2 linked regions of the Homo sapiens genome follow. The protein of the gene in region 2 purifies or fractionates together with the protein of the main gene of each other region. This does not show direct contact. Each region holds a gene or a part of one and is shown on either strand. Other genes may lie near its edges.

What was found. Proteins that work in one complex are often made in the same cells at the same time.
Region 1: the proteins of ZNF398 (region 2) and ZNF746 purify together in Homo sapiens (affinity purification with mass spectrometry; 2 studies listed by BioGRID and IntAct, with this or other methods). This does not show direct contact.

What each region holds. Positions count from the first base shown.
Region 1 is NC_000007.14:149,473,805-149,480,830, forward strand, and holds part of ZNF746 (zinc finger protein 746), read right to left. Parts: intron 3,952-7,026; coding exon 3,760-3,951; intron 3,244-3,759; coding exon 3,118-3,243; intron 1,680-3,117; coding exon 580-1,679; 3' UTR 1-579.
Region 2 is NC_000007.14:149,171,448-149,178,473, reverse strand, and holds part of ZNF398 (zinc finger protein 398), read right to left. Parts: intron 2,007-7,026; coding exon 1,893-2,006; intron 1-1,892. UniProt on the Homo sapiens protein: Functions as a transcriptional activator.

The DNA of each region.
Region 1 (7,026 bases), 300 kb from region 2:
GGGAAATGCAACCGCTACTCCCGGAGGGGTCCTTCCTGCTGCACTGAGGTGTGCTCCAAGGGACCCAATGGCCCTCACTGCCCAGGGGCTTGGTGCGCTAGGCCCACTCAGCCCAACTGGGCAGAGCAGGGGCACACACAGGACCCCATCCCCAGGAGTCAGTGGGCCAGGGGTCCCCAACTGGCCAACCTTCCAACACACTATCAGACTCAGTGAGATAGTGACAGAAATGCACGCCCTGAAAACCAAAAGTACCTACAAAATTTAAATAGCCCTATTACTATTTTCCAGCTTTTTCCTCAAGAATTAAAAAAAAACAAAAAACAAAAAACAAAACAGGTTTGCAATTAAATTACTTAAAATTCTACGGCGCTCCCATTTCACAGAGAATTCTACTTGGTTTAGAGGTGGCAGCTGTCCTGGTGGATAGTTTCTCTTTCTCCAGTGATCATCAGTTCAGCAACTTGGACATTTGGTTCTCCCCGTCCCGCGTCTGCCTGAAGCTTCCACGCCGCCCTGCTGCCTGCACACGGGGCTTTTTACACGTGCGGCCGGCAGGGGCTATGGGGCTGGAGGCGCTCACATGTCCCCGCCATCGGTGGGTCCCAGGACGCTGAGGCCACAAGTCCAGTCGGTCACAAGGTCTGTGGAGGCCAAAGGTCCTTTGGAGGCGGGGCTCTTGAAGGGATCAGGAGGTGCGGGCGGCGTCGGGAGTGGCTGGCCTCGGGCCGGGGTCTTGGCGCCCGCTGCATGGTTGCGCTGGTGCTTGCGGAGGTGGTCCTTGCGGATGAAGCTTTTGCCGCAGACGGTGCAGGTGAAGGGCCGCACGCCCGTGTGCGTTCGGTAGTGGTCGATGAGCTTGGAGCGTTCGGTGAAGCGCTTCTCACACTCGGTGCAGGGGAAGGGCCGCTCGCCGGTGTGCAGCATGCGATGGCGGATGAGGTGCGCGGGGCGCGTGAAGCAACGGCCGCACTCCCCACACCGAAGGGCGCTGCCATCCCGTGCGCTGCCCCCACCGCTGCCGCCACCGCCGCCGCCACTGCCGCTGCCGCCACCGCCTGTGCCCGGGCCCGACCCGTCGGGCGCCCCACAGCTGCGCTGGTGCGCGCTCAGGCTGACTTGCAGCTGGAAGCTCTTCCCACACGTGGCGCAGGTGAAGGGCCGGCCCCCGGGGGGCGCCGCGGGGTGCTTCTTCAGCCCTGGCTTGTGGCCAAAGCCTTTGGTCCGGCCAGGGTATTTACAGGGTTCGTTGAATGGCCTTGGGGCCTGGCTGGGGTCCAAGATGGCCTCTCCGTTGTCCGGGGAGGAGTAAGGAAGCCCCTCGGGCCCCGTCCTCGGGTTCAGGCCCACTGGCGGTTTACACCGGAAATTCCAGCCCCACCGGACCCCTCCGAAGAGCCAGTCCCCAGGAGGGGTCTCCTCCTGGGCCACAGCAGGACTGAGCTCACCCATGTCCCTCTCAGGCCGGGCGGGCTCTCGCAGCCCCAGCACAGGGTCCTGGCTGGGGAAGGAGCTGCCCTGGCTTTCCCAGGCTCCTTCCTGGGCAGGACTAGGGAAGAACCGTGTGGCTTGGCCTGGTCCAAACAGGGTCCCGTGAGCCTCTAGGTCAGTAGGATGTACGGGTGTGGCCACCACCTCCTCTTCCTGGACTTCTGTTTTTATTACAATTTTTACATCTGCTGAGAAAGACAGAAAGACAGATACTGACCTGTCCCTTAACTGCTGAGCGAGCCACGATCTGCCACCATCACCTGCTCAGCAGCTGCCTGGCCAGACAAACTCCACCCAGGCCCTCGTGGCTGAGCCCAGAGGGCAGCTCAGCAGAGCAGCCTGGTGGCTGTGAGGCTGCCTCCCCCTCGAGGACACCAGTGTTCTGGCACCTTCACCACAGGACAAGCCACCATATCTGCTCCCCAGGCTCCATTTTTCAGTTTGGCTGTTAAGGCTAAGCATGAATTGATCCTCAGAAAGGAATTCGAACTGCTGCAGGCACTGTGCCCCACCACAGTGCAGGGAATGGGGGTTCAGACAGCTCGGCCACACACCAGCTGTGGGCTGCAGGCAGTTTCTAACCCACAGCTCATCTGTGAATGCCCACTTCACAGGTGTGAGGATTAAACCAGACAACATGTCTGAAAGCACCTTAGTGAGCTATTTGACATGCAGCAGCATTCAATAAATGGACCCACCAGCTAATGATAAAAATATTAGTGAATAAGAATGTGTTTGGCCAGGCGCGGTGGCTCACGCCTATAATCCCAGCACTTTGGGAGGCCAAGGCGGGGGGATCATGAGGTCAGGAGATTGAGACCATCCTGGCTAACATGGTGAAACGCCGTCTCTACTAAAAATACGAAAAATTAGCTGGGCGTGGTGGCGGGCACCTGTAGTCCCAGCTACTTGGGAGGCTGAGCAGGAGAATGGCGTGAACCCGGAAGGCGGAGCGTGCAGTGAGCAGAGATCGCCCCACTGCACTCCAAGCCTGGGGGACAGAGTGAGACTCCGCCTCAAAAAAAAAAAAAAAAAAAAAAAAAAAAAAGAATGTGTTTGATTTTATATAAGCGTACTTCAACTTCACATTCTGAGGTTTCACATCAGGGATCTTGGCTATTAGCACGTTTTTTGGGTGCTAAAATATGACGTTATTATAGTAACAGGTGACTGGTCTTCAAAACAGAAGTAAACAGAAAGCTAACAGATAAATTTGGTGGTGGTTCTTCTGAAATCGGCCTTCAGACACCTGTCTTTGGTAGTACCAATATCTAAGAAGTGGTTTCAGTTCAATTTTGTTTTCCTCCATGCCAGAGAGAAGCCACAGTTTCCTAAGCTGGGGAGGAGGTATATCCTTCAAGAGATAGGCTTGTTAGAATAGACCACTTAACACCATATGAAAAAGCAACAGACTGAAACATGGATGTCCTCAAGAAGGGCTGCTGACACCTATGATTTGGCAAGGAGATAAATAACAGAATGTGCAAAGGGTCATAAGAGTGCAGACACCCTAATGTCTGTTGGCTGGAAGGTCAGAGCAGTTCACCAGTGAAAATGGGATGCCTGGACCGAGGTACTCCCCACAGGCAAGCATGGCCCTTCCCTTCCTCCTCTCGCCACCTGTACCTTCCGTGGAGGCTGCTGTGTTGAGCTTCAGGGTCCCGTCCGAGCATGCTGAAGAGGGATGGTGGGGAGGGAGATCCGTTTGCCAGGAGGTGGGCGGGATGGTGGTGGAAAAGTTGGAATGGACACCTGCGGTAAGGGGAGAGCAGAGCCGGTGGGTTAGGGGACGGACGGGGAGGACAGAAGACTGTTGGGGAGGAGAGCAGGCTAAACTCTGAGGTCCCCCCACTGGGGGCTTTTCTGAGTGGGCACGAGGACCCAACCTCTCTGAACCCAGTGTCTTTTGTCCCCCTTTCTGAGGCACTGGGAAGCTCAGACATCATCAGTATGTTTCCCACGGGCCCCTCTCGAATAGAGGCAGCCAGTGACTTCAATGCCCAATGCTGGGGCAAGAGAAGCGGCCTCACGGTGATATAGGGGCCACTGGAACAGGGCCAGAGAGACACCCAGGGACAGCATCAGCCACCCGAGAGAGGCTCGAGACAAGTCCTTTAGTACAGTCCTACCTCGAGACGGGAAAATTTCTAAAGTTGTCAGGCCGGAAGTGTTGAGGGCCCACAGCTCCCCCATGCTGCCACGAGCCCTCCCCTGTCCCTCCTGTGATCCCTGCAACTTGTTCCTTATGTCCCCGTCTCAGCCACTTACCAGAGGTGGCATCCGTGGAGATGTCTCCTGCTCCGGAATCCAGCTGGCTGAGGCCCCAGGGCTCCTCCCCAATATCTGGCTGCCCGGCTGCCCACGCCTCCACGCCCAGGGCCTGCTGCTCCTGGAGCTGGAGCTCACCCTCCTGCTTGATCTGCATCAAGAGGTCTGGGGCGGGAACTGGGGGCCCCGAGCCTAGGAAAGGGAGTGAGTGTGAGGATACAGCATCACGGCCCCTCAGCCCTGGGGCATACACGCATCCAGCCGGAGAGATAGACACAGGGGCCTTACAAGGGTCCAACAGCAAAAGAGCCTGGTGGGAAGGGAGGCAGCAGCAAACAGGATGGGAGCCTAGGGCAGAGCCTGAGGTCACATGGTATTGGGAATGCGGGTAGGGTAGGAAAGGCTGAGGCGGGGGAGGGGAAGAATACACAAGCACATTCTCAGGGCTAGGCTGGTGGTCCAGAGGGAGACTAAGTTGCCCTGGGGATGGCCTGCCCTCACTTGAAACACAAGAAATGCTGAACAAAAGTGAACCCCAAGTCCCCCCAAAACCTTCCCCCCTCATATATTTAAGTGAGTGCAAAAGAAAAGATCCCAGAGGCAAGAATGACAGAGAACACACAGAGTCAATCACGAGTTACAGTGGAAGGCAAGTGACCTAGAGAGTTGTTGGAGTAGGATACAGGCCTTAGGGGCTGGGCTTTCATGTCCATGTGAGGTTGGGAGTGTGGCCGAGCCGCCTGCCTGAAGCCAGGAGTCATAGGCTCTGGCCTGTCTGTGAGATGGGGACTAGGAAAACTCTGTCTGCCTGCGGGAGCCACCAGGAAGCAGCCTACTTGTCCAGGGCTATGTGTGGGAAAGAAACCCATAAAAACTTGGAATCCCATGTCCACACAGAATTCACACTACCCACACGGGCAGACACCATAAACTGAGAAATTCACAGAAAAATTGGCTGAGAGCCATGGCAACTCAGGAGGCCCCAGCATGGGCAAATGCAGATCTGCCTCAGAGGGGCACCCACACAATGCAGTCCACAGGGGGCTCCTAAGGGAAAACTAAAACCAGAAGAAAAACTAAAACTTACAAAACAGAAGAGGTGCCAAATGGCCATGAGAGTCATGGCAGAGTTCACTCCCAAGAACTAATGAAAAAAAGGAGAGGCTGAATGATACAGTAACCTAAGTATGTCTAAGATCATCAAAGAGATAAAGAACAGAATCTTTAAGGCAAGAACAGCAAATTATTTTGAAAAAGGCAGATTTGAAAAAGAACTCAACATTCTAGAAACGACAGAGGCAGCTGTGGAAATGAAAAACTCAAATGGATGGCTCTGGCTCAACAACAACAGACTGAACACAGCTAGAGAGAATATTAGTGACTTGGGAGAGAGATCCAGGGAAATAACCCAGAGTACAACACTGAGAGATAAAGAATGAAAAATATGAAAAAGTTAAGAGACCTGGAGGACAGAATGAGAAATTCCAACACATGCTGGTAGAAATCCCAGAAGAAGAGAATGGAGAAATGAGTAATGGCAATAGGTAAAGAAATAATGGTTGAGAATTTTCCAAAACTGAAGGCATTGTTAAGTCCACAGTTTGAAGGAACAGACCAATTCCCAAGTAGGTAATAAAACAAACAAACAAACCTAGACAACATTCATGTGAAATGGAACCACAGCAAAGACAAAGAGAAAAACCTTAAAAGGTACCCAAGAGAAAATAATGACATTCAGACTACAGGAGATTTTCTTCAGCAACTAGGATATCAGAAGACAATGGAATATCTTCAAATGTTGAGAGAAAACATCTGTCAACTCATTTTATGAGGCTAAGACAATTTTTATTGCACAAACTAGAGGGGTAGTATATGAACAAATTTAAAAAATAATCTCATATATGAACAGATATGCAAAGATTCTAAATGAAAGAATTACAAATCAAACTCAGCAATATATTTTCAAAAAAGAAAAAGACATATTATGAACACATTGGGTTTATTCTGAGAGCTCAAGGATAACACTAGAAAATATAACGAACAAAGTTAAGATTAATAGCAAAAACAATATAATCATCTCAACAGATGTAAAAACAGCATTTAGCTCTTCTATTTCTGACATATGGCTGGCTAGATGTGCAGAGAAACAGAAATTCCTCCCAATGTGGAATATCTAAAATTGCTGAGTAGGCTGGGTACAGTGGCTCATGTCTGTAATCTCAGCAGTCTGGGAGGCTGAGGTGGGAGGAGCTCTTGAGCCCAGGAGTTTGAGGCTGCAGTGAGCCATGTTTGTGCCACTACACTTCAGGCTGGGTGACAAGGTGAGACCCTGTTTCAAATAAACAAACAAAAAAAGCCAGCCTAGGCAACATAGAAGACCCTGTCTCCACAGAGGGGAAAAAAAAAAGTTTTTAAAAAAAGTTAGCCAGGCATGGTGGCATCCCCTGTGGTCCCAGCTACTCAGGAGGCCCATTGTGGCCCAAAAACTTCCAGGTCAAGACTGTAGCTTGAAGTGGTCCTAAGTCTGCATTGGCATCAGATGACCAGCTGAGGAACACACACACATTCTCAGGAGGAAAGCATTTTAAACATAGCTTTCAAATAATCAATGAGCTCACAATTACACATCACCATCTCGAGAAAATCAGCACCACAAACTCAGCAGAAATCATGAACTGGAGAATATGACCAATGACTTTGGATATTAAAATTATCATATAAGGAATATAAAGTTCAATTATTTACAGAAATAAAAAGGGGGAATGAAAGTATGGAGAAATAAGACTATCAAAACTGACCAAATTTTGAAAAAGAATCAAATGTAACATTCTTTAGAATGGTGAGAAAAAATAACTGTTGTTTTGTTTGTTTGTTTGTTTGTTTGTTTGAGATGGAGTCTCGCTCTGTTGCCCAGGCTGGAGTGCAGTGGCGCGATCTTGGCTCACTGCAACCTCTGCCTCCCGGGTTCAAGCAATTCTCCTGCCTCAGCCTCCCCAGTAGCACTGGGACTACAGGTGCATGCCTCTAGGCCCAGCTAATTTTTATGTATTTTAGTAGAGATGGAGTTTCACTGTGTTGCCCAGGCTGGTCTTGAACTCCTGAGCTCAGGCAATCTGCCAGCCTCGGCCTCCCCAAGTGCTAGGATTACAGGCGTGAGCTACCGCGCCTGGCTAATAACTGAAATTTTAAAATCCAATGTGTAGGTTAAACAACAGAATGGAAATGATTGAATGGTGAATAGTGAACTAACTAGAAGATAGAAGAAAT
Region 2 (7,026 bases):
ATGACACTTTAAATTTATTTTATGACAGGATCACATTCTGTTGCCCACGATGGAGTACAGTGGCGTGACCTCAGCTCACTGCAGCCTCCACTACCTGGGTTCAAGTGATTCTCCTGCCTTAGCCTCCTGAGTAGCTGGGATTACAGGCATGCACTACCGTGCTCAGGTAATTTTTTTTTTTTGAGACGGAGTCTCGCTCTGTCGCCCAGGCTGGAGTGCAGTGGCACAAACTCGGCTCAATGCAAGCTCCGCCTCCCGGGTTCACGCCATTCTCCTGCCTCAGCCTCCCGAGTAGCTGGGACTACAGGCACCCGCCACTACGCCCAACTAATTTTTTTGTCTTTTTAGTAGAGACAGGGTTTCACTGTGTTAGCCAGGATGGTCTCGATCTCCTGACCTCATGGTCCACCCACCTCGGCCTCCCAAAGTGCTGGGATTACAGGCATGAGCCACCGCGTCCAGCTGTGCTCAGGTAATTTTTATATTTTTAGTAGAGATGGGGTTTTGCCATATTGACCAGGGGTCTCGAACTCCTGGTGTCAAGTAATCCACCTGCCTCAGCCTCCCAAAGTGCTGGGATTACAGGCATGAGCCACCACACCCAGCCCTCATCAGAAAATTTAACACTGTACCTCTTCTATGCTATCTGTTAAGAAACAGAAAATCCTTGGCATCAATCTTCCCAACGTTACTTTCACTATATTTTACCTCTACTCAAGAACTTTCTCTATTGCCTGTTGTGACAAAGCCTAAAATCACATAATTATCTATTCCTATTTCTCTGTATTCTATCAGATCAACCCATCACTGTGGTCAGCTGTCTCTTTACTTCCCCTGAGAACAGAGTATACATTTCTGCTATGCATCTTGACTTACTCTGTCCTCCCTTTTGTAGAATGCTACCCCTCTCTCCCCATCTTTCCAAATTATACCCAGCCATATCATACCAATCTTTTAAGGTACAATTGTGGCTTTATGCCCTTCTTTAGGTCTTATCTAAATACCTAAACTAAAACTGATGCATATTTTCCTTTTTTTTAGAGACAGGGTCTCCCTATGTTACCCAGGCTGGTCTTGAACTCCTGGGCTCGAGTGATCCACCTGCCTCAACCTCCTCCCAAAATGCTGGGCTTACAGGCACGAGTCACCAAGCCAAACCTGATGCATGTTCCTGAAACTTCTCATTCATTTATATAAGTCGTCCACCCCACTCATCCTTGACACTTAACAGGCTTGCCTAGTACTGATATGTATGTCCCTAGCATAAGTTTTTTCAAGAGCTAAAACTATCTTATGTTTCATTTGTGTTTCCCAGTCTAAAAGAACACAGAGCACAGAAAATACTAAAAAAAAAACAGAATGCATTAAGCTGTATAAATGACTGGGACCCTTCTGATCTTGAGATTCTCTTCTACAATACAAATGGCAAAAGTATCTTAGAAGGAAGATACTTATATTTCTTCTCCCATCATTGATTTTCCTTTCACTGAGGGAGGGCTCTTAATTAACATTCCCATTTACACCTCTCCATGGCCATTTCTGTCTCCAGGGCTTGTCTCCCCACCCCACTCCCACGTTTTCTACCCTTTCTACATGATTTTCAAATCGTCTTCTGTCTTTCCCCATCCCCATAATTTTGGTTCGTCTGTATGCACTTGTTTTTCTTCTTCTGACAATTCTCATTTGTCTTTGCATGTAAGAGTGTATTTTCTCACTCACTTCAAATTTATCTTAGTGACTGTTTGGTTTCATTCATAATGTTGAGCATGGCTTTTTCTTTCCCTCATTCTTCTCCCACATATTTGCCTCTACAAATTTCACCTGCTGTTTCTTCAGTCAGTCCTGGCATGAGCTGGATATGGACATGAACACCTCTTTAATTTCATACTCACCAGCATAAGTGCTTTTGTACACGTCACTCTCCTTGGACTCCGGTGGGGCCCCAACCTGAGGCTCTTCTTCTTGTTTAATCCAAGACAGAATATCTGATGTTGAAATACCAGGCTCTAATTTGTGGGAGGAAAAAAAAATGGCCTTCATGAACTTGAATAAGAAGGTAAGATAATCAAGTTGGTTTGCTGAACACTATATTTTGCCCCAAATATTTTTCCTTTCTTTTTTTCTTTTTTTGAGACAGAGTCTCGCTCTGTCACCCAGGCTGGAGTGCAGTGGCACGATGGCTCACTGCAAGCTCCGCCTCCCAGGTTCAAGCCATTCTCCCCGCTGCCTCAGCCTCCCGAGTAGCTGGGACTACAGGCGCCTGCCACCACGCCCAGCTAAGTTTTTTTTAAATTTTTTTGTTTTTAGTAGAGATGGGGTTTCACCGTGTTAGCCAGGATGGTCTCGATCTCCTGACCTCATGATCCGCCCACCTTGGCCTCCCAAAGTGCTGGGATTACAGGCTTGAGCCACCGCGCCCGGCCCCAAATATTTATTTCTAAATAACTATAACAATAACACAGAACCAGCCTTTTAAAAAATGCATACAGGATGGGTGTGGTAACTCACGCGTGTAAGCCCAGAACTTTGGGAGGCCGAGGCAAGTGGATCATTTGAGGTCAAGAGTTCAAGATGAGCCTGACCAACGTGGCAAAACCCTGTCTCTACTAAAAATAAAAAAAATTAGTCAGGCGTGGTGGCAGGCGCCTGTAATCCCAGCTACTCAGGAGACTGAGGCAAGAGAATTGCTTGAACCTGGGAGGCAGCGGCTGCAGTGAGCCGAGATCGCACCATTGCACTCCAGCCTGGGCAACAAGAGCAAAAAAACTCCATTTCAAAACAAACAAACAAACAAAAAACAAATCAACTTCCAGAATTACAAAGTTAGTTCAGTATAGACACAGAATCCAACTCCCTAGAAACACACTTTTCAGATTCCCAATTCTGGGCTCTTTCTATGAGATATATTATCTTTGTCTATTAAATGATACAAGTCATTGTTTCCTAAATGCTGGGAGGGGGAAGAATATAGTATTGGCAAGTCCTTCAGGTCTTGGGGGTTCTTTCTGAAAGAAAAAGTGCACAGCCAATATCGGCTTTGCACACAACATGCCTCATCTGATCAGTACCAAAACAGCTGTGCTAGCTATTACAACCTAGGCCTATATGGCTTTATTATTTTTTTTTTTTTGGACTAAATGGACAAGTTGGCAAGCTGACAAGAGAGCTTGTCAAGCTCCAGAGAGTCCCCTGAAGCTCTCTATAGTTATTTCTCAAACACAGCCTTGTGGGCAGAATATGGTTTAATTCACAGCAAATTAACAGAACTGACTACTTTACCCAATGTCTTCTAAATCAGTTAGACGCCACTGAAATCTAAAGGTGTTCTCAAAGCAGAAATAAGAGGCTGGGGTAAGACGAAAGCCCAAACGACCATCGGTTATGGGGAGCGATTTGGGAAATAGATTTTAGCATATGCAACAGTTGCCTTGCCAACCTCCTGTTCTGACCTAAAAGAAAAGCTGAAGTGTATTAAACATAGTCCAATCTTATCTTTGTTCTCTTCCAGATGTTATACACATACATATCTATAAGGAAAAAGGCAGAGGGGGGGAAAGACTGGATATAAGGAAGAAAACCTCTGAACCGATATCCAGAGGATTAACTTTCCATTCAAAACATCTGACTTTTGTTTGTTTGTTTGTTTTTGAGACAGGGTCTCACTCTATCACCCAGGCTGGACTACAGTGGCGTAATCTTGGCTTACTGCAATCTCTGCCTCCCAGGCTCAAGCTATTATTCCACCTCGGTCTCCCTAGTAGCTGGGACCACAGGTGTGTGCCACCATGCCCAGCTAATTTTTTGTATTTTTGGTAAAGATGGGGTCTCACTATGTTGCTTAGGCTGTTCTTCAACTCCTGAGCTCAGGTGACCCACCTGCCTCAACCTCCCAAAGTGCTGGGATTATAGGCATGACCCACCATGCCTAGCCAAAAAACCTGACTTTTAAAACACTTACCTGCTTGTTTTTAAAAATTTTCTGAATGGGCTGGGCACAGTGGCTCACGCTCATAATCCCAGCACTTTGGGAGGCTGAGGTGGGCAGGTCACGAGGTCAGGAGTTCAAGACCACCCTGACCAACATGGTAAAACCCTGTCTCTACTAAAAATACAAAAATTAGTTGGCTGTGGTGGCACGCGCCTAGCTACAATTACTTGAGGAAGGGGGCTACACTAAACAACAAATTTTCATGTATGAGAAACAACTTTCTATTGGAAGAATATGTCATCTGGGACTTTCATAACTAGAGAGAAGTCAATGTCTGGCTTCAAAGGACAAGCTGACTCTCTTGTTACAGGCTGATGCAGCTGGTGACTTGAACCCGGTGTTCATTTTAGTATTCTGAAAACCCTAGGGCTCTTAAGAATTATGCTACATCAGGCCGGGCATGGTGGGTCACGCCTGTAATCCTAGCACTTTGGGAGGCCAAGGCGGGCGGATCACCTGAGGTCAGGAGTTTGAGACCAGTCTGACCAACATGGAGAAACCCTGTCTCTACTAAAAATACAAAATTAGCTGGGCGTGGTGGTGCATGCCTGTATTTCCTAGCTGCCCAGGAGGCTGAGGCAGGAGAATCGCTTGAACCCAGGAGGCGGAGGTTGCGGTGAGCCGAGATAGCGCCATTGCACTCCTGCCTGGGCAACAAGAGCCAAACTGTGTCTCAAAAAAAAAAAAAAAAAAAAAAAAAGAATTATGCTAAATCTACACTGCCTGTGCACTAGAAATGGAACAACAAAGCCTGGATGACAGCACATCTGTTACAGCACGGTTTACAGAATATTTTAAGCCCACTGTTCAGAACTACTGCTCAGAAGAAAAAATTCCTTTCAAAATACTAGTGCTCATTGACAACGCACCTGGTCACCCACAAGCTCTGATGGGGATGAACAAGGAGATGAGTGTTGTTTTCATCCCTGTAAAACAACATCCATTCTACAGCCCCGCAGATCAAGGAGTAATTTTTACTTTGAAGTCTTATTGCATAAGAAATTTATTTCAGCATCAATGCACTCCAGCCTGGGTGACACAGCTAGACTCTGTCTCAAAAAAATAAATAAACATATTTCAGCCAGGCATGGTGGCTCACGCTTGTAATCCCAGAACTTTGGGAGGCCGAGACGGGTGGATCACCTGAGGTCGGGAGTTCGAGATCAACCTGGCCAACATGGCGAAACCCCGTCTCTACTAAAAATACAAAAAAATGAGCCAGGCATGGTGGTAGGCGCCTGTAATCCCAGCTACTCAGGAGGCCGGGGCAAGAGAATTGCTTGAACCTAGGAGTCGGAGGTTGCAGTGAGCCGAGATCGTGCCACTGCACCCCAGTCTGGGCGACAGAGCAGGACTCTGTCTCAAAAAAAAAAAAAAAAAAAAAAAAAAAAATAGAAATTGCCACAGCCACCCCAACCTTTAGCAACCACCACCCGGATTAGTCAGCAGCCATCAATACTGAGGCAAGACCCGCCACTAGCAAAAAGATTATGACTCTGAAGGTTCAGATGATTGTTAGGATTCTTAGCAATATTTTTAAATTAAGGTATGTACATTGTTTTTTTAGACATAATTTATTGCCAACTTAATAGACTGTATAGCATAGTGTAAACTTAACTTTCACATGCACTGGGAAAACAAAAGTTATTGTTACTTGTACTGTGATATTCACTTTATTGCAGTAGTCTGGAACTGAACCCACAATATCCTGGAGATGCCTGTACTTGCCTTTAATGCTGTTTCCATATTAACTAAGTATTTATCACACACTGTGGCCGTAACTTTTGCAGTTTGAGGTGCAACAGTAGCACTAGTACAAATTTCTTTTACTTTCTTCACAGTTTCACAGATAGAAGATTTGTTCTTACCAGAGATCTTGGCAACCTCAGCATGTAACTTCCTTCCTTCCTTATTAAGTCAAGAAATTTCACCTTTTCACATAAAGGAAGCACTTGACGGCTTCTCTGATACATCTGAATTGCCACCATTACTACTTTTGCAGTTTGGGGCAATTATTTATTTTTAAAAAGGGGGGGAGCGCGGGGTACTTAACATAAGCACTGCAATACTGCCACAGTTGACATAGCTTCTAAGTGACTAATGGCCAGGTAGCGTATACAGTGTGGATGCACTGGACAAAGGGATGATTCACGCCCCAGATGAGACAGGGCAGGATAGTGCAAGATTTCATCATACTACTCAGAATGGCAAACTTAAAACTTATAAATTATTTCTGGAATTTTCCATTTAATATTTTCAGATCACAGTTGACGGCAGGTAACAAACTGTGGAAAACGATACCATCAATAAAGGGGGACTACTGTATGTAGTCTCTATGCTGATACAAAACTTCCCCTAAATGATGAGTGGTTGGCTGTACCTAACTGCAGTCACGTACCATGTAACATTTGTATAGTAGTACAAAGGTTTATATTTGTGCTGAATATAAGGACAGTTTTGAGCAAGACACATGGAGTCATGCACTGCATAATGGTGTTTTGGTCAAAAACAGGCCACTGTCGAGCATGGTGGCTCACATCTGTAATCCTAGCACTTTGGAAGGCCAAGGCAGGCAGATCACTTAAGTCCAGGTGTTTGAGACCACACTGGGCAACATGGCTATACCCCATCTCTATAAAAAAATAAAAAAATTAGCCAGGTGTGGTGGTTTGAGCCTACAGGCTATTTGGGAGGCTGAGGCAGGAGAATCACTTGAACCTGGGAGGCGGAGGTTGCAGTGAGCCAAGATCACACCACTGCACTCCAGCCTGGGCTACAGAGCAAGATTCCATCTCAAAATAAATAAATAATAAAAAGTAAATCCCAGCACTTTGGGAGGCCGAGGCAGGTGGATCATGAGGTCAGAGGCGGGTGGATCATGAGGTCAGGAATTTGAGACCAGCCTGGCCAACATGGTGAAACCTCGTCTCTAATAAAAATGCAAAAATTAGCCGGGCGTGGGGGCGCAGCATGCCTGTGATCCCAGCTACTGGGGAGGCTGAGGCAGGAGAATCACTTGAACCCAGGAGGCAGAAGTT